Regions from separate parts of the Homo sapiens genome. Here regions 1 and 3 are each linked to region 2. The links come from fine-mapping of genetic effects on gene expression. A gene starts in region 2. Each other region holds a variant in brackets. All regions are shown on one strand. Distances are from middle to middle. Region 1 overlaps ERLIN1 (ER lipid raft associated 1). Region 2 holds the start of CWF19L1 (CWF19 like cell cycle control factor 1). Region 3 overlaps CHUK (component of inhibitor of nuclear factor kappa B kinase complex).

Region 1 (8,183 bases), 97 kb after region 2:
AGTAATCAATTTAAAATCTACCAATTGAGTCCTCTTTGGTGATTGTCAACCACTGAAGTGGCATGTGAGGAAACTGATGGGTCCTGCTTTGTCTCACCACCAGTCATTTAAATAGCGAAAGTACCATTGAGGTGAATAGAAAGTGCATAGTTACAAGCCCAAGTGTTCATGCTGTGTATATTTCAAATACTTTTCTATGAGCTTCTCTCTCTGTCTCTCTCTCTCTCTCTCTTTAAATCCAAAATAACAGTGAGGCTGAGATCCATGGAAATGAAGTTTAGTTATTTGGGAATTTGAGTAAAGATTTACTGAACATAGAAATTTGTTTTTCTTTGAGAATGAGGATACATATTGAGTAAGAGCCCTGAATTAAGATACTAGAGATCCAGATTCTCCATTTATTAGATCAACATATTTTACCCAGTAGTTGTTTATCCAGTAAATAAGTCTAATAAGTTACCCAGTAAAAAAGCTTATCCATAGTTAAGTAATACATTTAGTGGGTAAACTTATTGGATAAACAGACTATCTGCTTGTCATCTTCGTTCCTTAATTTCTTTATTAGATAATTCCTTGCAATTTTTTTCCCACACAAAAGGGAAGAAAAGGCAGTTTAAGCTCTGTAAAAGAATAGTACTGTGGAAACTTTAGGTCTAATAATGATTAGTTTTGTTTCATTATGAATACAATGTAAAAAAAATTGACTATCATGAGATCTGTTGTTCTTGGCTTAAAAAACAGATCAAATAGATGAAAACCTGAAGCAAGCTCTGCAGAAAGACTTAAACCTCATGGCCCCAGGTCTCACTATACAGGTAAGTTCTTTTCCTAGGGAAGTTCTCTGGGGATTTTGAGAGCTTTGAGTTTGTTCCTCCTTTCATTGGATTGTTTTATTCAGCAATTATTTGAGATGCTATGGTGATTTATAGAATACCTTTCTCAATTTGACTTTAGATCTCTGCCAAAATAAAATACTCTTGTAGCTTACTATGGGTGACATTTGTGAACTCCTAGAGGGAACTGATAAGCTGAGGCTCTTACAAGGAAGTAAAATTCATATTTCTGCCATGTATGAAGCATTAAGATACAGTAATGGTTATAAATCAGTGTAAGCATAATCCCTGCCCTCAGTAAGATTATGAAAAGGGAGTTCAAGTGTAAAATTTGAACAATCCTGGACAAAATAGTTATCACAAAGTATTAATTGACAGATGAATCTATTGAATGATTATTGCTGTAAGAGTAAGAGAACATTGGAAGACAGTGTGTCTAGGAGAGGGCTGTGATTGAGTTGAGATTTTAAGTAGGTTTGGAAAAATTAATTGGATTTAAATGGGGGAAGAATGAGAAAGGTATTTCAAGTGGGAGGGACAGCCCTAGTAAAAACAAGGTAGCAGGTGAATTTAGTGGTAGTGGTGATGGTGACGTTGGGAAATAGAATGGTGAGAGGTTTTACCCCTGCTTTTTTTTGGGTCACTGTGTTTTCCAGATTGTGGGTTGTAAAATCAACTTTAGTGAGTCATGAACAGCATTTTAAATAAAATGGAATAGAATAGGAAAAGAAATGGTATGTAATAAGTTTAAATATTCTGTGACACTTGTGTTTCACAGTGTGGCGGGGTAGGTGTTTATATTGGACGTCAGTGCAAAATGTGTTTCTTACTGTGTCCACTGTCAGTAACATTCGAAAGCCACTGCTCTGGATCCAGATGACCTAAGAAGTTATATTGAGGCTTCTCTAGTGTCCTTTCTCAGGAGCTCTAGGAGACCAGTTGATTGTTGATTGTTGTGATGAACATTACTGCAACTAAAGCTTATCACATGTCTCTCAATTCTTTACACTCAGCACCACTGCTACTGAGAGTGTGCGCTCACTGTGATTGTATGTGTTCGTGCTTCTCAAAAACAAGACTGAAAGATAGGTGGGGTTTTCCTCATGGCCTCATTCATGCAATGTCATTATCTCAGGCGCTTGAGGGTGAGCCACCAGAGTTAAGGGGTCGTTTGAAATGTCCAGAGGTAACTTTGTAAAATCCTCTGAGTTGTTCAAGTCAGTTGTAGCTGGAGTAGCTTTTTAGTTTTAAAGATAGTGAATGTGAAGGTCAGCTCTTAGATTCTGCCCAGGGTGTTACTCAGAGATCTAGCTCATTCAACTGTTGTTTAGAATTCCTTGCCTTATATTACTTAGCCATTTTTCTGTTCCCAGTTTTTTGCTATTAAACAATAGTGTAATGAACATTCATGACACATGTTCTTGTATGTACAAATTATCTTTCAAACTGACTGTACAAATGTACATTCTTAACAGCAATATGTGCAAATAATTGTGACCCATGAACTCACCAACATTGGAAGCAATCAGACATACTGATTGTTACCATATGGATGGGTGGGCAATTATATCTCCCTTTGATTTGCATTCCTTTGGTTGTTAATGAGGTTGAACATCTTTTGATACATTTATTGGTCATTTATACTGTCTTCTGCTGATTGCCTATTCATATCTTTTGCCCATTTTTCTGTTGGATTGTTTTCTTTCTTACTGATTTGTTCTGTATAAATTTGGAATTTTTATACACACACGTTATTTATGTTGTAGAAAAAAGTTAGATACTAGGAAAATGATGAAGAATAAAATGAAATTCACCAGTAATCTTATTATGCAGGGATAACATCATTTGTTATATCTTTCTCGACTATTCTTAATGTATATGAACAAATGTTTGTAGATATAAATGCATACATGCTCAACTAAAGCAGAATCATACCATACTTGCTTTTTTCACTAACATTGTCTATGAACATCTTTCCAAAACAAAAATATAGGTTTGGTAAATCATTACTTTTAATGGTTATATTTAGTGAATCTCTATGGTTTCAAATTTTTTACTACTGTATGCATGTTGGAATGACCAAGCTTATATATTCTGTACATCTTTTTAAATCCCTCTCTTACAATAAATTCTTGAAGTGGGATTGATGATCAAAGTGTATGCCCTGTTTGGGGGCTTATTGATACATACTACCGAATCACCTTTTAGAAAAATTTTAGCAGCTCCCCCCCTCATTAGCAGTGTTGGTAAGCTGTAGTTCTTACACATTTGATTGCATGATTGTACCCAAATAATTA[G/T]CAGATGCAAGCTTTCCCTTTCTCTCTTAATCCTTTTGGAGAAAATTAGTCTGTTATTTTGTGTTAATTATTGAAGTTGAATACCCTAGGTTATTAGCTGTTTTTATTTCATTTATAAATTGTTGGTTTTGCTCATTTTTGTAGTTAATGGTTTTTCTAACTGATTTTAATAAGCTATTTTTGGCTGGGCATAGCGGCTCACATCTGTAATCCCACCACTTTAGGAGGCTGAGGTGGAAAGCTCCCTTGAGCCCAGGAGTTTGAGGTCAGCTTGGACAACATAGTGAGACCCCTTCTCCACAAAAAATTTTTTTAAAAAATTAGGTAGGTGTGGTGGCATGTGCCTGTAGTCCCAGCTACTTGGGAGGCTGAGGTGGGAGGATGACTTGAACACAGCAGGTTGAGGCTGCAGTGAACTGTGTTCATGCTGTACTCTTGTCTGGGCAACAGAGCAAAACCCTGTCTATAAATAAATAAATAAATAGCATTTGTATATAGAGAACTTGTTTTTGAACCTTACCCTTTGAGAGGGGTAGAATTCGTTTTTAAAAATAAACTTTTTCATATGTTAGTTATTGTAGCTCTTTTTTATATTTATAGGAAACATTTTCTTCAAATTTTTTCTTTGTCATTTAACTTTGTTTTTTCCTTGCTGATAACTTTGAAGTGTTCATGTTTTACATAGTAATTTCAGTGATTTTGTCTTTATGGTGTGTTGCTGAGCTGGCATGTTTTAAGAGCTTTTCACCACCTTAAAAGTATAGCAATTAAAATTAGAAATTATAAAAATTGTATCTGCTTTTACAGTTGTATTCTTAGATTTAAATCTTTTAATTCATCTGCAACCCATTTTGATCTCAGTTGCAAGGTAGGCCTTCAGCTCCATCCCCTCAACCCCAAATTGGGTAACAGCGGTAATTACTGAATAGTTTATTTTTCCATCTTCCCCCTTCTTTGAAATAGTTTTTATGTTACATACTGCATTCCATTATATACTAGAGTCTTTTTCTGAACTTAGTTCTGTTCCATTGATCTTCCCATTCCTACTCTTTCATTAGTTATTGAGTCCTTGGTCTTTTCTCATCAAATCGAATTTTCTCCTGTGTTTTTCATCTTGTCAGTTAATGGTAACTCTTTCCCCTCAAGCCAATCTAGAAGTGTAGGAGGCATCTTTGACAATCGCCTCACCCTCAGCATCTAATCAGTCCCTATGTCCTGCAGATTCCACCACCAAAATCCATGTATTAATAAAACTGACCACACCTCCATCTTCACTGTCATCTCAAGCCAAGCTACCAACTCTAACCTTGACATGTGCAGTAGCAGTAGCCGCCTGTCTTCTTTCCCCACTTTCACTTTTACCTTTGTCTACTTCATTTTCTGCACAACAGCCAGAAGGATCTTTTGAATTTACTTATATTTATTTGCTGTTTTTATAAAAAGTTATTGATTGAAAAAATGTAGTTTTGTTATACGTTCTTAAAGTGGTAGAGATCTCCATTGTTTTAGGGTTTAAAAAAATTTTAAAATAATTTTTATATTTTGCAATAACTTAAGCATACCCTGAGAAGAGAAGAGCTCCTTTGCTTTGGTTGCTTTTGTCTTGTTATAAAATTTTTTTTACAATAGTTGGAATGCATTTTAAGAATTTCAAGGCTGTTTTTGAGCTTTGTTATTTTTAACACATTACCATATGGTTGTGATAATTCAACTTTTTATTTTAAAATCTGGCAAGAGACATCATCTTTTAAAAAATAATGGCCTTTGCTGTTTCTGCCAGCTTAATCTTCCAGATGAGTTTTCATTATCGATATTTTCAAGCTATATCAGGCACCTAAGTGGTCATATACATGTTGTTTTGTTTTGTTTTGTTTTGAGACAGGGTCTCCCTCTGTTGCCCAGGCTGGAGTGCAGTGGCATGATCATAGGTCACTGCAGCCTTGAACTCCTGGGCTCAAGTGATTCTCCTGCCTTAGCCTCCCAAGTAGCTAGGAGTACAGGTACACACCCCCACATCTGGCTAATTTTTTTATTTTTTGTAGAGATGGGCCTTTGCCGTGTTGCCCAGGCTGGTCTCAAACTCCTGGCCTCATGCAATCCTCCAATATAAGTTAAAAATAGAAACATAGTTTATGGCTTTACTTTATCATATCAGCCTTTTTGGTTTTTAGAATTTCTGATTTAGGGGAGAAACTCATATCCTAAGTTAAATTAATACCAATGGATTTAATGAATTTTAATGCTGTTCAATATGTAGTCTTTTTTTTTTTTAATCATTGAGGAATGTGATTGATTCTTGGTAGATTTATCTTATATCTACAACTTGAATTCACTGCCTTCTAGTAATTTTTGGGTTACTATTTTTACAGTCACTATTATATTTTTTTCCTTTCCATATATTTATATACCATTTTTCTTCTTGAAAAACTACTCTGGCAAATTAGAATGATGAAAATGGTCATCTTTGATTTTTTTTTTCCTATGTTATTTAAGGGAGTGACTATATTATAGACTGGCTTTTGATATATAATATATGCTTAAAACCCAGGGGTCAGTTTCAATACATATATTCCTTTCATTAGCCATTTTTTTCCTCCATTCACTCTATGTATGTGAGTGGGATGGGGGCATTATTTTATTATTTGAGGTTAAGAGCAGAGGTTTAATAGGCAAAAGAAACAGAAAGGAGAATAGCTCTCTCTCCTGTGAGGGAGAGGGGTGCCTGAGTGGGACTTCCCACTTTTACTTTTAAAATCTCTTTTGATGCAACTTACTCATGGTATCTGTACAGTAAGTGTTTATGTTTTCACATATTTGAAAATCTGTGAGATTTCCCAAGATTGGCAAGCACAATGTAGTATGTTCTTCAGCCTCATTCAGCAAAATAGGAGTCTTCAAAAGACAGTCCTGGCCGAGTGTGGTGGCTCACGCCTGTAATCCCAGCACTTTGGGAGGCCGAGGTGGTTGGATCACCTGAGTTCAGGAGTTCGAGACCAGCTTGACCAACACAGTGAAACCCTGTCTCTACTAAAAAACAATACAAAAATTAGTCGGGCTTGGTGGCGCATGCCTGTAATCCCAGCAACTAAGGAGGCTGAGGCAGAAGAATCGCTTGAACCTGGGAGGCGGAGGTTGCAGTGAACTGAGATTGCACCACCGCACTCCAGCCTGGGTAACAAGAGCAAAACTCCATCTCAAAAAAAAAAAAAAAAGTCCTACTTTACGCTTCTTTTAATAAGGCTAAAAAGATATGTGGCCAGTCTCTTAATTAAATGCAGTATGACAGTGCTTCCTTGAATCATATTAATCCATATTGGAAGTAATCTTATGTCTGCTAGTCACATGGTGAAATCTGACATCTCACAAAATCTGGTCCTGAATTTTTATTTGTCTTCTGCATGTCTCCACTGAGTTGTGAGGCCTCACATGTGTCACTGCCAGTGTGTTGTGAGTTTTTTCCACACAGCCTTCAGCTGCTTATTCCATTCCACTGTAATCCTTATATTTAGTTATGATTGTCCTCAAAATTACCTACAAATTTGACTCATCTATTTCATATAGGAAATGCTATATCGCTTAAAAGTTTTAAAAGCCTTTAAAGAAGACTAAGTGCTTAAAGGCTTTGTTATTCTTAAAAGGTTAGCCAGTTTTCAGAAGGAAAACTTCTTCAGACCAGCAAAGTGTTTTTTGTGTGTGTTTGCAGTATAGGTGGGGCGGCGGGGTATCGTATGTTTAGTAAAATCAAAAGCTTTTGAGAGATCAAGTCCTTGATGTAGAAAAGTCAGCCTTCAAAAAACAGTACTGTCCAGGTAGATAATCTTAATTGTGTCAAAGAACACTATGATTAGGGAAACAAAGTGTCTGGTAAACAGCCTCTACAAAGACAGACTTTGTTCTAAGTGAGAGTTAAGGAAGAAAGAATATAAGCTTTTAATTGATATTTGTTTTCCTTCAGCCAGTGGGCTGTTTACTTACAGCAAATACCAAGTGATTGCAGGGGTTGGAAGTGATAGATTAATTTACTCACTACTCACTGTATTAAATTGTATACACCAACCTGGGTTTTTTTGTTTGTTTTTGTATTTGACTAATTGTTTCTGACTTTACAATTTCAGTCTTGGAACTTTGCCTTCCCGGCTTCTTTGGTTTACAGGGTTGAAAAAGAAAGCAAAAGTATCTAACGACCTTTGTAAAACATCTTTTAAGTGAGAACCTTTTTCATAAGGCAGTTGTTTCCTCAGTGGGTAGATGGTTTTTCCTGTAATCTGGCATTGTGTAAGGAAATAAGAAGCAGCTTGTCTTTGATTCTTGGTGTGATGGCATGAAAAGTAAATGTTCTGGTGGGATCCCCAAACGTGTTAGTAGGCCGCTATATTATAGCTGTTGTTTATTAGATTAGTATCATTTGAGGGGCTTTTCTGTAGAAGATTTAATTTGAAGATTTATCTTTCAAATATACTTTGGCTTTTTCACTTTTATTTTTTAGGCTGTGCGTGTTACAAAACCCAAAATCCCAGAAGCCATAAGAAGAAATTTTGAGTTAATGTGAGTAATATGCATGGGATCCCAATATTTCTGTTTAGGGCTGTCTGCATATTAATATTCCAGTCTAGAGGAAACATGTGAGACAATACACTCTGGGGTGGAGTATGTGTCTTATCTTCTTTACTCTTACTCTAGTAATATTGCCTATTCTTGTGTCTTAATTCCCACTAGACTCTTACTAGTGTTCTCTTTATGTATGGACATTTCAGGAGCAGTTTCAGTGGCTAAAGATGCAGTTTGCTGTAAAACTATTGCTGGAAGCTTAAGGAGCTATAATTTTATATGAATAGTACCTTGAATTAAATATTTAATAGAGGAAAGAGTCCTGAAGCCGTTAGGGTTGAAGAGAGTGCTCATATTTTGTTTCTGTGTTGTAATGGTAGGAATAGATACCTTGTTGGTATAAAGTTTGGTTTTCCATTGTATGTGATTGTATATCTAAAATTAGACCTGGTTCTTTATAATGTGCCTCTAGGGAAGCCTTGCTTCTGTTGACTCCTGGTAGTCT
Region 2 (8,183 bases):
TATACAAAAAATTTTTGCCCAGATCAATATCTTGGAACATTTCTCCAGTATTTTCTTCTGGTAGCTTCATAGTTTCATGTGTTAGGTTTAAGTCTTTATCCATTTTGATGCGATTTTTGTATATGGTGAGAGATAGAGTTGAGTTTCATTCTTCAGTATAGGGCTATCCAGTTCTCCAAGAATCATTTATTGAAGAGACTGTCCTTTCCTCATTGAATGTTCTTGGCACCTTTGTACTTTTGGTATTGACATAAAATGAGTTGGCTGTAAATGCATGGATTTATATATGTTCCATTGGTCTATGTGTCTATTTTTATGTCAGTACCATACTGATTGGGTTACCATAGCTTTGTAGTAGATTTTGAGGTTGGGCAGTATGATGCCTTCAGCTTTGTGCTTTTTGCTCAGGATTGCTTTGGCTCTTTGGGGTCTTTTGTGGTTCCATATAGATTTTAGGATTGTTTTTTCTATTTCTATTTCTGTAGAGCAGCAGTCCCTAATCTTTTTGGCACCAGGGACCGCTTTTATGGAAGACAATTTTTCCGTGGACGCGGGGGGATTTTTTTTTTTAATGGTATGAACCATATTTATTGAAAACATTATTTCTGGCCTTTCTCAAATTGAAGACTGCAAAAAATAAAAGCAGTGCTTTATTGAGTTGTCATTAACCTTGAGAGCAGTGGCGCTGCCTCTCCACGCTCTGGGGACGGTGGAAACCGTGGCTGGTGCGTGCCACATCTATCACACCTCGGTCTACAAAACAGTCCTGACGTCAAATAAAACTATTGTGGCCGGGCGCGGTGGCTCACGTCTGTAATCCCAGCACTTTGGGATGCCGAGGCGGGCGGATCACGAGGTCAAGGAAATCGAGACCATCCTGGCTAACACGGTGAAAACTCGTCTCTACTAAAAATACAAAAACAAAATTAGCCAGGCATGGTGGCGGGTGCCTGTAGTCCCAGCTACTCTGGAGGCTGAGGCAGGAGAATGGCGTGAACCCGGGAGGCGGAGCTTGCAGTGAGCGTAGATCGCGCCACTGCACTGCAGCCTGGGCGACAGAGCGAGACTCAGTCTCAAACAAAAACAAAAACAAAACAAAACAAAACAAAAAAAACAAACGCTCGTACATGACATTTACATTAGAAAAAGAGAGCTGAAAGTAGGGATGGGGGGATGGTTTGGGGATGAAACTGTTCCACCTCAGATCATCAGGCATCAGATTCTTGTAAGGTACGCAGCGCCGTAGAACCCTCGCATGTGCAGTTCACAATAGGGTTCCAGCCTCTGTAAGAATCTGATGCCACCACTAATCTGATAGGAAGTGAGCTCAGGCGGTTATTCTCACTTGCCCACCGCTCGCCTCCTGCTGTGCGTCCTGGTTTCTGATGGGTACTGGTCCATAGCCCGGGGGTTGGGGATCCTTGCTCTATCTAGAGAATGCCATTTGTATTTTGATGGGGATTGGACTGAATCTGTAAATTGCTTTAGGTAGTGTTGTCTTTTTTCTTTCTTTCTTTTTTTTTTTTTTGAGACGGAGTCTCGCTCTGTTGCCCAGGCTAGAGGCTGGAGTGCAGTGGCTGGATCTCCGCTCACTGCAAGCTCTGCCTCGCGGGTTCATGCCATTCTGCTGCCTCAGCCTTCCGAGTACCTGGGACTACAGGCGCCCGCTACCACGCCTGGCTAATTTTTTTGTATTTTTAGGAGAGACGGGGTTTCACCGTGTTAGCCAGGAAGGTCTCGATCTCCTGACCTCGTGATCTGCCCGCCTAATTCTTCTAATCCATAAGCGTGGAATATCTTTCCTTTTTGTGTGTGTGTCCTCTTTCATCAGTATTGTATAGTTTTCCTTGTATAGATCTTTCATTTCTTTAGTTAAATTGATTCCTACGTAGTTTATATTCTTTGTAGCTGTTGTAAATGAGATTGCTTTTTTGATTTCTTTTTCAGATTGTTTACTGTTGGTGCATATAAATGCTACTGATTTTTGTATGTTGATTTGGTATCCTGAAACTTTTACTGAATTCGTTTATTATTTCTAACAGTCTTTTTCGTGGAGTCTTTTGATTTTTCAATACGATGAGTTTTTATGTCTTACTTTTGTATCCTCTTCTGGGAATTATTACCTGCTCATGTTTGGCAAACTTCTACTCTTCTTCAAGATTCAGTCTTGAGTGCTACTCCTGGGCAGTGCTGTATTATCCAAAGAGTAGGAAAAAATGCATGCTTATGTGCCAGCAAAGCAGAGCCACCAGTTATGAGGCAAGAAACAAACAAAAAAGAAGGCTTGTAGGCTGTGGGAAAAGCCAGAACTTTGTAGTTTTGTTTGGTTATTGAGACAGGGCTTGCTGTGTCACCCAGGCTGGAGTGCAGTGGCAAGGTAATAGCTCGCTGAAGCCTCCATCTCCTGGGCTCAAGTGATCTCCCCACCTCAGCCTCTGGAGTACCTGGGAGTACAGGCATACGGCCACCATGCCCAGCTAACTTTTTTTTTTTTCTTTTTAAATTTGTAGTAGAGACGAGGTCTGGCTATGTTGCCCAGGTTGGCCTTGAACTCCTGTTCTCAAGTGAACCTCCCGCCTCAGCCTCCCAAAGTGCTGGGATTACAGGCATGAGCCACTGTGCCTGGCCTGTAGTTCTTCTTTAATCTTATGTTTTATTAATTTTGAATTATTTAGATGCCCTTGATGAGTCTTCCTTTCCCCGCAGTCGTCAGGAACTCTCTCTTGTTTCCATTTCCTTACACACTTGTTTCCTACCACTTGGCCTGAACCCTTCAAAAAAGTCAATATTACAAAAACTAAAACCAAATAGGTAGGAGGGCTTTTGTAGATTAAAATAGAGACAGAACCAAATGCAAGTGTGAAACTTGATTGCATCTGAATCAAAACAAGCCCCAAATATAAAATCAGTTTGTAGGGAAATATGGAGAACTTTAAATATGGATGTATATTAGGTAATATTATTGAATAATTAATGTTAATTTTCTTAGCTGTGTTAATAGTATTACGGTTATGTAGGAGGATATCCTAATCTTAGGAGATAAATGGAGATGTATTCCTGTTGTCCGCACTTTATTTTATTTTATTTTTTGACACGGAGTCTCGCTCTGTCGCCCAGGCTGGAGTGAAGTGGCGCGATCTCGGCTCACTGCAACTTCCTCCTCCTGGGTTCAAGCGATTCCCCTGCCTCAGCCTCCCGAGTAACTGGGACTGCAGGTGCGTGCCACCACGCCCGGCTAATTTTTTGTATTTTTAGTAGAGAGGGGGTTTCACCGTGTTAGCCAGGATGGTCTGGATCTCCCAAAGTGCTGGGATTACAGGCGTGAGCCACTGCGCCCGGCCTGTACTTTACTTTCAAATGATTGAGTGAGAATGGAAGGGCTTGGGCACTTTGAGAGAAAGAGAACACAAGCAAATTTGCCAACATGCTGAGACTTACTGAATCAAGGTAATAGCCATTATTCTTTTAACTTTTTTTTTTTTAATTTGAGACGGAGTTTCGCTCTTGTTGTCCAGGCTGGAGTGCAATGGCGCGATCTTGACTCACTGCAACCCCCGCCTCCCTGGTTGAAGCAATTCTCCACCATGCCCGGCTAATTTTTGTATTTTTAGAAGAGACGGGGTTTCACCATGTTGCCCAGGCTGGTCTTGAACGCCCGACCTCAAGTGATCCGCCCGCCTCAGCCTTCCAAAGTGCTGGGATTATAGGCGTGAGCGTCCACGCCCGGCCTCTTAACTTTTTGATAGGTTAAAAACTTACAAAAAACGTGGATAGAGGGGGTCTGTCTTGCCCACTAGACCGATATGGTTAGGTTAGGTTAGGTTAGGTTAGGTTAGGTTAGAACCCGACATTGTGCTCTGTACTTCCTAGCCATTCATTCGCTTCAAGTGCTCTGAAATTTAATTTAAAAAATCATAGTTGGAATCCTTTCGGTCACTTTCTCTTTCTCCCTTCGTTCCTCCCTTTCCCTCTTGATTCTTCCTTGAGGCGCAAACACCTGAGAGAGGCTTCTGTCCCTCGGCGGTCTCCGTAAGTAAGTGAACCGTTATTGGCTGGAGGGCGCTGACGTCTGATTGTTGCGCGGTCGCATTTTTCCGGGGAGCGCGGATTCGCATTCCCAATTTTAGGTGGCAGTCGCAACCCATACTATTCGGACAGATGGCACAGAAACCGCTGCGCCTGTGAGTGACCGTGAATGGAAGCCTCTCTCCCTGTGTCTCTTTCGTGTGTGTAGGTGACGACACGGGCGGGAGTCTTTCCCATGACGGGAAGGGAGAAGGAAAAGGCGGAGAGACACGGGGCTGCTGGGGAGCTTAGGTGATGTCTTTGCCTGGCCGGGGCTGACCTCTTTTCCTGGCCCTTTTCGCTTCTGAGGGGGTTTCTCTTGGCGACGCTCGTTCGGAGAGGCGGAAGCTCCCAGAGTTAGGCCTCCTCCATCTTAGGGGGCAGTCCTGGCCTCTGACACATCCTTTCCCCTTCGTTTCTCCTGACCCCATTTATTTACTCGCCAAATAGCCATTGGGCCCACTGATGGGCCCTGGGCAGTGGTGGACAGAGTAGATAGGGACCCTTCCCTGGGGCATTTTTTTTTTTTTTTTTTTTTTGCGAGGAGGAGGGGTGGGGGTGGTGGTGAAGAGAGGGCTTCATGCAGCAAGTATTTATTGAAGAACTGCAGTGTGCCGGACGCTGTGCTAGGTGTTGCAACAGATGGAGTTCCTGCTTTAATGGAGCGTAGAGTCTAGAGGAACAGGTACTAAAGAATCCAGATAATGGGCCGGGCGCGGTGGCTGAGGCAGGAGAATCGCTTGAACCCGGGAGGCGGAGGTTGCTGTGAGCCGAGATCGCGCCACTGCACTCCAGCCTGGGCGACAGAACGAGACTCTCAAAACAAAACAAAACAAAACAAAACAAACAAAAAACAATACAAATAATGGCCGGGCGCGGTGGCTCACGCCTGTAATCCTAGCACTTTGGGAGGCTGAGGCGGGCGGATCACTTGCGGTCAGGAGTTCGAGACCAGCCTGGCCAACGTGGTGACACCCCGTCTCTACTAATACAAAAAAAAAAAATTAGCCAGGCGTGGTGGCGCGTGCCTGTAATCCCAGCTACTTGGGAGGCTGAGGCAGGAGAATCGCTTGAACCCGGAGGCGGAGGTTGCACAGTGAGCCGACACTGCACCTCTGCACTCCAGCCTAGGTAACAGAGTGAGACTCCGTCTAAAAAAAAAGGAATTCAGATAAATGTAAAGTTACCATAGTGATAGGGCCAGGCGCAGTGGCTCACGCCTATAATCCCAGCGACTCCGGAGGCCAAGGCAAGAGAATCACTTGAGTCCAGGAATTCAAGACCAGCCTGGGCAATATAGCAAGGCCCCGTTTCTACAAAAAATACAGAAAAAAAAAAAAATTAGCCGGGCGTGGTGGTCCCAGCTAATTGGGAGGCTGAAGCAGGTGGACCACCTGAGCCTGGGGAGGTCGATGCTGCAGTGAGCTGTGATCGTGCTGCTGATCTCCAGGCTGGGTGACAGATTGAAACCCTGTCTCAAAAAAAAAAAAAAAAAAATTGCAATAGTGGTAACTTTTGGGAAGAAAATATTCGTGAATCTGGGAGAGTGCATAAGAGGGGTATTTGGCTTAATGATAGGAGTCAAGAAGGCTTCCCGAGAATGTTAGGATTGAGCCTTGGGAAATAAGAGTAATCCATTGCTTAACAGCAGGGTTATGTTCTGAGAAATGAGTTGGTAGGCGATTTCGTCATTGTGCGAACATCTTTGAGTGTACTTCCAGAGACCTAGATGGTATGGCTTCCTGTACACCTAGGCTAAATGGTATAGCTGTACGTCAAGTTACTGTACTGAATACTGTAGGCAATTGTAACACAATGGTAAGCATTTTTGTATTTAAATATAGAAAGGGTACAGTGAAAACACCTGGCCGGGTGTGGTGGCTTATGCCTGTAATCCCAACACTTTGGGAGGCCGAGGTGGGTGGATCACCTGAGGTCAGAAGTTCAAGACCAGCCTGGCCAACATGGTGAAACCCTGTGTCTACTAAACATACAAAAATTAGCCGGGTGTGGTAGCGGGCGCCTGTAATCCCAGCTACTCAAGAGGTTGAGGCAGGAGAATGGCTTGAGCCTGGGAGGCAGAGGTTGCAGTGAGCCGAGATCGCACCACTGCACTCCAGCCTGGGCGACAGAGCGAGACTGTCTCAAAAAAAAAAAAAAAGAAAAAGAAAAAAAGAAAATACTGTATACAGGAAAAAAAAAAAGGGCACAACCTGTGTAGGACACTTATCATGAATGGAGTTTGCAGAACTGAAAGTTTCTCTGAGTGAGTTAGTAAGAGGTGAGTGAATGTATTACTTTACAGTATTGTAGACTTTATGAATACTGTACACTTCACCTATATTAAATTTATTAAAATATTATTTTCAACAGTAAACCTTAGTTTACTGTAACTTTTACTTTATAAACTTTAAGTTTTTTTACACTTTTTGACTCTTGTTATAACACAGCTAAGACATAAAACACATTGTACAGCTGTACAAAAATATTTTCTTTATATCCTTATTCTACAAGCTTTTTTCTATTACTTTTTTTTTCTTTTTACCTTTTAAACTTTTTTTTTTTTTGGAGACAGGGTCTCACTGTCGCCCAGGCTGGAGTGCAATTGTGCAATCACGGCTCACTGCAACCTCAACCTCCTGGGCTCAAGTGATTCTCCCACTTCAGCCTCCTGAGTAGCTGGGACTACAGGCGGAAGCTACCACACCTGGCTAATTTCTGTATTTTTTGTAGAGAGGGGGTTTTGCTATGTTACCCAGGCTGGTCTTGAACTCCTGGGCTCAAGTTACCCTCCTGCCTCAGCCTCCCAAAGTGCTGGGATTACAGACGTGAGCCACTGTGCCTGGCTTTAAACTTGTTTTGTTGCAAACTAAGACACACACACGAGTCTAGGCCTACACAGGGTCAGGATCATCAGTATCACTGCTGTTCACCTCCATATCTTGTCCCACTGGAAGGGCTTCAGTAGTAATAACATGCATGAAGCTGTCATCTCCTATGATAACAGTGCCCTCTGGAATACTTCCTGAAGGACCTGCCTGAGGCTTTTTTACAGTCAACTTTTTTTTTTTTTTTTTGAATACGTAGGAGTGTACTCTAAACAGTAAAGAGCATACCATACTGAATATATTTTTTTTTTTTTGAGATGGAGTCTTGCTCTGTTGCCCAGGCTGGAGTGCAGTGCCGCGATCTCAGCTCACTGCAAGCTCTGCCTCGTGGGTTCATGCTATTCTCCCGCCTCAGCCTCCTGAGTAGCTGGGACTACAGGCGCCCGCCACCACGCCCGGCTAATTTTTTGTATTTTTAGTAGAGATGAGGTTTCACTGTGTTAACCAGGATGGTCTCGAGCTCCTGACCTTGTGATCCGCTCGCCTTGGCCTCCCAAAGTGCTGGGATTACAGGCGTAAGCCACCGCACCTGGCCATAGCATGCTAAATATTATACATAAACCAGTAACATAGTTGTTTATTATCATTATCAAATATTGTATACTGTACATAACTGTATGTGCTACACTTTTTATAACCACCAGCCCAGTAGGTTTATACCAGCATTACCACAAACAAATGAGTAATATATTGCACTATGATGTTACAAATGGCTAGACATCACTAGGCGATAGGAATTTTTTAGTTCCATTATAATCTTATGGGACCACCATTACATATGTGGTCCCTTGTTGACCGAAACATTGTTATGTGGCACGTAACTGTATTCTTGTCTTTAACCTAAAAAGGTTATTGAAATGCTTAAGAACGCTTTGGCATGATCAAATTTTCATTTTGGAAAGCAGTTCTGTCTGCAATGTGGAGAACAAATCAGAGCCAAAGTAGAGAACAGCTGGGATTAGGTAGAGTGATGACAGAGGAATAGTTTAGGGATTCAGGGTTTATTAAGGAAGTAAAATCAACAAGGCTTGTGATGGTTTAATTGTGAGTGAAAAGGAGCTGGCCTTGTTGGGTCATAGATTTCTATCTTTATTCAGTGGGATAGAGAACAGTGGAAAAGGGCCCAGATGAGGAGATGAGGCACCTGGTGATGTATAAACTGGACAGTGGATCTCCCAGAGACAATGGTAATTCCGTGTGACAACTGCTGTGATGGAAGAAATGCAGGCT
Region 3 (8,168 bases), 45 kb after region 2:
TTGTGCCTGATTCTCATTTCCATGGTGGTAAAGGCCTGCATGGGACATAGATATAACTGGTCACCTGCTCATAACAAAAGGAAGATTGAAGGGAGTGAGAACTGTGGGTAGGCTAGCATGCAGTCTATCCTAGTTTCCTTCTTCTCTATGCACCAGGTATCATCTTATCTCTAGCTTCTTTTTTCCTCTCACCCTCCAATTCACACTACCCTATCCAAGCTATGTCTTGCTTCCCCACCTATAATATATTTTTTCTGTCCTGGCCCCTGGGCTCTTCTCTCTGTATTCATACACAGCCTTTATTACAACTCTGGTTTGTGTCAGAGATTACATATGTTGGAAATTCTTTTGAACTCTCCTTGTGATATCAGAAACATAGTGTAGCCTGTTTAGCCCTGACTGCTATTTCTGAGCTGCATTATTAATGTTGCCAGAATATGATGGGGTCTGGCTATTTCCTGTAATATGCATCAGAATGGGTTTAATTTCAGTCAGAATTGGCTAAATTACTAGTCACAGGCAAGAGATGTTAGGTTCATTATGTAGCTATGGAAGCAGAAGTACACTCATTGGTAGGATTTTTTTTCTTCATGTCATTTGAAATGCATACATTAGGATTGGAGTTTTTTGCTTTAGGCTTGGTTATATTAAAACTTTCTCTTGCTGTTTGGAGTCCAGGAAGCCCTGAATTACCTTCTTCATTTTAGTTATGCTAGAAGCTGGGGCACATATTAGTTGTCTTGATTAAGCTCTGAAAGGGGTTTGCTGAGGAGACAGGATCTTTTTTTTTCTAACATTATATATGAGAGAGAGTTCTGAAAAGACCTGTTATAAAATCAGTTTCAGGCACTTTTCCCTTGTATGCTGTTGTGTGTTTGAAGGTCAGTTTTAAAGCATTGGTGTAATAGTCTCATGGTTTATCTTTTTAAAAAGCATTGCCTCAAGAGAGCTGTGGATAAATATATTTAATTAGTAAAGCTAAAAAGTTTTGTTGTCTTAAGTTATTTCTTTGGTAGCAAATAAATCTTCACAAGAACCTAATTTTTTTTTTCTGTTGATTTTCTATTTTGGCAGGAACTTGATCTCAAAATAGCAATTAAGTCTTGTCGCCTAGAGCTAAGTACCAAAAACAGAGAACGATGGTGCCATGAAATCCAGATTATGAAGAAGTAAGTGTATTCCTTGACTTACATTTCCCTGGTTCTACAGCCCAACCAGATGTCATCATGGGGAAAGAGGCCAGGAATCCACTCTTCTCAGGATCTTTTTGGGAACATATATTTTTTTCTCTCATTAAATATATTCTATTTCAAATAATAATATCACATTAAGATTAAGAAGGTTTAGTTAAAATCAGCTAGGACACTTACACACTGTTGGTGGGAATGTAAAATTGTGCAACTGTTACGGAAAACAGTACGGTGATTCCTAAAAAATTAAAAATAGAATTACCATATGATCCAGCAATTCCATTTCTGGGTATATACAAAAATGAATTGAAAGCAGGGACTTAAAGAGTAATTTGTACACTCATATTCATAACATTATTATTCACAATAGCTGAAAGGTAAAAGCAACCCAGTATCTACCAGCAGAGACATGTATAAACAAAATGTGGTATATTCATGAAACGGAATATCATGCAGCCTTAAAAAGGAATGAAACTCTGACACATGCCACAGCATGGATGAATCTTGTGGACATTATGCTAAATGAAATAAGCCAGTCACAAAAAGACAAATACTGTGTCATTCCACTTATGTGTGGTACCTAGAGTAGTCAAACTCACAGTGAAAGAAAGTAGAATGGTGTTTGCCAGAGGGTGAAGGGACCAGCAAATAGAGAATAATTTTTAATAGGTGCGGAGTTTCAGCTTTGCAGAATTAAACAGTTTTGTGCAGTATAGTGATAGTAGCAAAACATTGTGAAAGTATTTGATGCCAGGCTGGGCATGTTGGCTCACACTGTAATTCCAACACTTTGAGAGGCTGAGGTGGGTGGATTGCTTGAGCTCAGGAGTTCGAGACCAGCCTGGGCAACATGGCAAAACCCCATCTCTACAAAAAATATAAAAACTAGCTATGTGTGGTGGTGCATGCCCGTAGTCCCAGTTACTTGGGAGGCTGAGGTGGGAAGATTGCTTGAGCCCAGGAGGTCAAGGCTACAGTGAGCTGAGATCATACCACTGTACTCCAGCCTGGGTGACAAGAGCAAGACCCTGTCTGAAAAAAAAGGAAAGCATCTTGATGCCACTAAACTGTACACTTAAAAATGGTTAAGGTGGTAAATTTTATGCTATGTGTGTTTTACCACAATCAAAAAACTATTTCATTTCAGTTAACAAAAGTCAGCTAGGGCCGGGCGTGGTGGCTCACACCTATAATCCCAGCACTTTGGGAGGCCAAGGCGGATGGATTACCTGAGGTCAGGAGTTTGAGACCAGCCCGGTCAACATGGCAAAACCCCATCTCTACTAAAAATACAAAAATTAGCCAGGTGTGGTGGCGGGTGCCTGTAATCCCAGCTACTTGGGAGGCCGAGGGAGGAGAATTGCTTGAACCCGGGAGGCGGAGGTTGCGGTAAGCTGAGATCATACCACTGCACTCCAGCCTGGGCGACTCCGTCTCTAAATAAATAAATAAATAATAAAAAATAAATTACCCCAACATTTAGTGGCTTAAAATAGCAAACATTTAGTATCTTATAGTTTCTGTGACTTAGGAATTTGGGAGTGGCTTAGCTGGGTGATTCTAGCTTAGAGTCTTTCCTGAGACATCTCAGGATATTGGTCGGAGCTGCAGTAATCCAAAGGCTTGACTGGGGCTGGAGTATCTGCTTCCATGCTCACTTATATGAATGTTGGCCAAAAGCATCAGTTCTTCGCCATGTGGGCCTCTTCATGGGGAAGCTTGAATGTTTTCATGACATGGAAGCTAGCTTTCCCCAGAAAGATCTTTTCCTCAGAAAGAGTGAGTGATCTGAGAGAGAGAGAGAGAGAGAGAGAGTGAACGAGCGAGCAAGATGAAAACCGACGTATCTTTTATGATCTTTACTTGGAAGTGAGACTCCATCCTTTTCCACCACATTCTGTTTGTTACAGTGAGTCACTAAGTACAGCCTACATTCAAGGGGAGGAGAGTTAAGCTCTTAAAAAGAGAAGTAGACATATTTTAAAACTTCCACAGGTAGTGTGCTAAGTACTTTACAGATCATTCTTCCAGTTATCACAGCAATCTTATATTTAGGTATTATTTTGCAAATGAGGAAGTTGAAGCTTATAGAATCACATAGCTGGTGGTTGGTAAAGTGTGGATTTGAAATAAATACTTTCTGACTCTAATATCTGTGCTTAATTCCATTTTGATTCTCAAACTTGGTTATGTGGCAGAATCACCAGGAAAGCTTAATAGTATAAATTATCAGGTCCTACATGTA[C/T]ATGGAAATTCTGTTTGCTTCTTTTTCTTTTTTTCTTTTTTTTTTTAAAAGAGATGTGGTCTTGCTATGTTACCCAGGCTTGACTTGAACTCCTGGGCTCAAGCAGTCCTCCCACCTCAGCCTCTGGAGTAGCTGGGACTATAGGCATGCGCCACCACACCCGGCTAATTTTTAATTTTTTGTAGAGATGAGGTCTCACTGTGTTACCCATGCTGATCTCGAACTCCTGGCCTCAAGCAATCCTCCCACCTCAGCCTCCCAAATTGTTGGGATTACAGTTACAACTACACCCAGCCTAGAACGCCAGATTTGACTTACTCACTGTGTGATCTTGTTACTTAGCCAATTTGTGCTTCAATTTTCTCCTGTGTGGTGAAAGTATTAATAAATCTACCTATAATAGGATTATTGTGACAAGTAACTGAGTTAATATATTTAAAATGTTTACTGCTTGGCACTTAGAAATGTAATAGTAGTAATAGTGATGGTATTTTTATGTGTGTTTTCTTTTAAAAAATTACTAATTTTTAATTATACAAATCAGAAATTAGAATATTATAAATAATACTGATCTTTCCCCCTCTGTTCATCCACCCACAATTAAGTAGCATTTCAAATCCAGTCCCTTTTTATTGGAAATAATTTTTTTTATTGTAATGTTTTTCTTTCTTATTAGGTTGAACCATGCCAATGTTGTAAAGGCCTGTGATGTTCCTGAAGAATTGAATATTTTGATTCATGATGTGCCTCTTCTAGCAATGGAATACTGTTCTGGAGGAGATCTCCGAAAGGTAGTGTGGATGTTTTGAGATGAGAGAGAGTAAATCACAAACTTTAGCAATGTTTGAATCATGTTAAATATAATAAACTAGAATAAGAATCGGAAAAACTATGGTCTGCTTCCTGTTTTGTAAATAAAGTTTTATTGGAACACAGCCACATTCATTTCTTTACACATTGTCTATGGCTGCTTTCTTATGGCTGCAGAAGTGAGTAGTTTTAACAGAGACTATGTGACTTGCAAAACCTAAAGTATTTACCATATGGTTCCTTACAGAAAATGTTGACTCCTGATTTAGAAAATGCATTTTTGTTGTTGCTGTTTGATGGGACTATAGCAATGGTGTTAGATGAAAATTTCAGTGGTTAAGGTGCTTATAAAAAGTTGTTTTCTGTATTGCAATCTTTTTTTTCTACCTAATTTTAAATGTGCCCATATGACCATTTTTATATATATCCATGAGATTTGTCAGCCTTTTCCAGTTTCAAATGCTTTTTGCCTCTTTTTACTTTTATGAGCCTTATCATGAAATTTACATGCCCTCAGTATGGATTTGGTAATTTTATTCCCTTGTATTTTATTATGACTTATTTTCTCATTTGAATATTCTTTTAGAGTATAGTAATTAATGTGTGGTCACTATTGCAGCCCAGCAATTTGCAGAACAGATTTTTAGATTTCTTTCTTTTTTTAGCTGCTCAACAAACCAGAAAATTGTTGTGGACTTAAAGAAAGCCAGATACTTTCTTTACTAAGTGATATAGGTACGTATCAGTATTAAAATACCATTGTAATGTAATGTCCCTTTGGCCCATAAAAGATCTTTTTGGGAATTCAGGAGAATTGTTGATACACTATACAAAGTCTATAGAATTTCAACATCTATAAGAAGTTATAAAAATCTATTACTATTGATGCTAAATTAAAACTAGGATATTTTGGCTAGGTGCGGTGGCTCACGCCTGTAATCCCAGCACTTTGGGAGGCCAAGGTAGGCGGATCACAAGGTCAGGAGTTCAAGACCAGCCTGGCCAACATAGTGAAACCCCATCTCTACTAAAAATACAAAAATTAGCTGGGCACAATGCCGCATGCCTGTAGTCCCAGCTACTCGGGAGGCTGAGGCAGGAGAATCGCTTGAACCCAGGAGATAGAGGTTGCAGTGAGCCGAGATTGCACCACTGCACTCCAGCTTGGACAACAGAGTGAGACTTTGTCACACACACACAAAAAGAAACTAGGATATTTTATTATTTATTTGTGGCTAAGAGTCCTTTTTTTGTCTAATAGATGTTCCAATAGCTGACAAAAAAATCATGTGAAATGACCTTACTCAATTTCTCTCCCCCCCTACCATTGACATAGTAATTTTGTTTACAGTGGAATTACATCTCCTTGAGGGATGGGTCCTCAAGTCAACTCTTTTTTGTTTGTTTGTTTTGAGACGGAGTCTAGCTCTGTTGCCCAGGCTGGAGTGCAGTGGTGCGATCTCAGCTTACTGTAACCTCTGCCTCCCAGGTTCAAGCGATTCTCCTGCCTCAGCCTCCCGAGTAGCTGGGATTACAGGTGCCCGCCATCACACCTGGCTAATTTTTGTATTTTTAACAGAGACGGGGTTTCACTGTGTTGGCCAGGCTGGTCTCAAACTCCTGACCTCGTGATCTGCCCGCCTCGGCCTCCCAAAGTGCTGGGATTACAAGCGTGAGCCACCGCACCCAGCCAAGTCAACTCTTCAGGGTGAAAAATCTCTGCTTAATCAGAATGACTCCAGAAAAATTCCTAAAATAACCAGTACCTAACCTTTTGGAGGAACCTCAAAAACCAAAAATTTGTTTCCCCATAGATTTTGGTTTTGCCTCTTTTCCAAGGTCATGAGGGCTAAAGTCCAATTGAAATGAGTGATTTAGGTGGGAGAAAGAGGCTTATAAGAGTTTCAGGGATTTTCCCAATTGCTTGTTGCATTTCTATTTGGTGTTAATTCTAATGAGTTAAATGAACATATAGTATAATTTTGTAGTATTTGTTTAATGTTACTTTTTTTTCTGTGAAGAAAACCTGGACACTGTAGTATTAGTTGTGTAGTTACGATGATCCATATAAACTTGAGCATCAGAGTAGATTTGTACAAAATGTGAGGTGAATTTTTCTTTTAACTCAATGATTTCTGTTACTTTAAAGTATATTTTAAACTTTATTTAGGGTCTGGGATTCGATATTTGCATGAAAACAAAATTATACATCGAGATCTAAAACCTGAAAACATAGTTCTTCAGGATGTTGGTGGAAAGGTAGGTGAAACCTGAAGTAATGTTTCATGCCTATTGAATATAGTCTCTCTGATATAGTTAGTCCTTGAGCTTTGGTGTCTTTGCTGTATGCCCATAACAGTCTTACTTTTTCCATTTCAGACCTCACCACACTGAACTGTAGTTTTGTGTTTAGTTTTTTTGTCCCTTCTGCTAAACAGTGGTTCCATCAGAGAAGGAACAGCACCTGCTTTTTTTTTCTTTTTCTTTTTTTTCATTTTTCATACTTAACCCAGCTCCTAGACTTCACCTGTCTTGTTCAAGTCTGTTTTTCCATCATAGTATCTAGCAAAGATACAGGCTGTGAATACATAATATGTTAACACTTATTATTTTATTCTTATGAAGCACATCCAAAACACATACATGCACATCCTGGGTCCACTTTAAGAAAAAAAAGAAAGTATATATATTTTTAAAACTTATTTTCCTTCCCCCAATTTAAATGAGTCATCTGGAGAAGAACCAGAAATTGTGAATTGACTCTTAAAATGTTCATTTCATTGGTAACTTAAGCAGTTTTCTTGTTTCCAGCATCCAAATTTCATTCCAATAAAGACTTAAAGGCCAAGAGTCTGAACCTTGTGTTGAGTTGTGTGTGCCGTCTCTTTAGTTAGTGAAAATAGTTGTTGGCCTCTTGGAGGTGTTGGAACCTTGGTGATGCCTCTTCTCTTAGGAACCTTTCACGTATGCTTGGCACCAAATATCTCTGCTTTTTTTTTTTTTAATCCAAAGACTTCAGGACATTCCTGAAGTTAGATCTAAGTATTTACTCACATTTAATCTACTATAAGGAGGTATGATGCTTCTTCAAGTTTGGAAGTCACCCTTGCCTTTACTTTCCAGTTTAATGGATTGAGCTTATTTTGAATATAGTAAAATAAAAATTAATAGCCCACCTGTATTCAATTTTTACCATGTACCAAGCACTGTGTTACCTTCTTTACTTTCGTTATTTCATTGGATCCTAATAACAATTCTGTGAAGCAGGGACTGTTAGTCATCCAATTAGATTACTGAGAGAGGTTAAATAACTTGGTAGATCACATGCCTAGTTAAGTGGTGGCACTCAGACTTGAAATATTTTTGTGTTATTACAGAGCCCAAGGTCCTCACCACTACCCTGTCTACAGCCTCGTAAGGATATTGTTGTCTTTCCTTTTTAAATTTCTCTACCATTTAATACTTAATCTGTCTTATTATTTTGCAGATAATACATAAAATAATTGATCTGGGATATGCCAAAGATGTTGATCAAGGAAGTCTGTGTACATCTTTTGTGGGAACACTGCAGTATCTGGTGAGACCTGTTTTGTTTCTTTGAATTTAAGTGTGTATAGGATTCTCTTATTTCTGAAGATCATGAATATAGTAGGTCAAAAATAAAGTAGCTTTTCCCATACAGTGTTGGTGTTTAAAGCATTTTCTCTTTTGAAGGCCCCAGAGCTCTTTGAGAATAAGCCTTACACAGCCACTGTTGATTATTGGAGCTTTGGGACCATGGTATTTGAATGTATTGCTGGATATAGGCCTTTTTTGCATCATCTGCAGCCATTTACCTGGTAAGAAATGGATGAGAACTTGGGCATGCTTAATGGGAATGGAAATTTTTTCATTTGTCTTTTTTTTTCTTTCTTTAATTGTTT

The links. PIP is the estimated chance that this variant, and not a neighbour inherited with it, causes the effect.
Region 1: its variant is fine-mapped to the expression of CWF19L1 in whole blood (TOPMed, PIP above 0.99).
Region 3: its variant is fine-mapped to the expression of CWF19L1 in whole blood (INTERVAL, PIP above 0.99).

What each region holds. Positions count from the first base shown.
Region 1 is chr10:100,166,840-100,175,022 of GRCh38, reverse strand. It overlaps ERLIN1 (ER lipid raft associated 1), which reads left to right. Exons shown (of 11, transcript NM_006459.4): 6 at 742-815; 7 at 7,617-7,675. Among named protein-coding and RNA genes, the nearest start is that of ERLIN1, 15 kb to the left of the region's middle. The variant G/T (reference allele first, on the strand shown) is at 3,131.
Region 2 is chr10:100,263,569-100,271,751 of GRCh38, reverse strand. It overlaps CWF19L1 (CWF19 like cell cycle control factor 1), which reads left to right and starts at 4,114. Exons shown (of 14, transcript NM_018294.6): 1 at 4,114-4,181. The coding sequence starts at 4,159. RefSeq lists an enhancer at 6,134-6,383.
Region 3 is chr10:100,218,924-100,227,091 of GRCh38, reverse strand. It overlaps CHUK (component of inhibitor of nuclear factor kappa B kinase complex), which reads left to right. Exons shown (of 21, transcript NM_001278.5): 2 at 1,075-1,169; 3 at 4,112-4,226; 4 at 4,911-4,980; 5 at 6,416-6,504; 6 at 7,733-7,822; 7 at 7,960-8,084. Among named protein-coding and RNA genes, the nearest start is that of CHUK, 6.6 kb to the left of the region's middle. The variant C/T (reference allele first, on the strand shown) is at 3,436.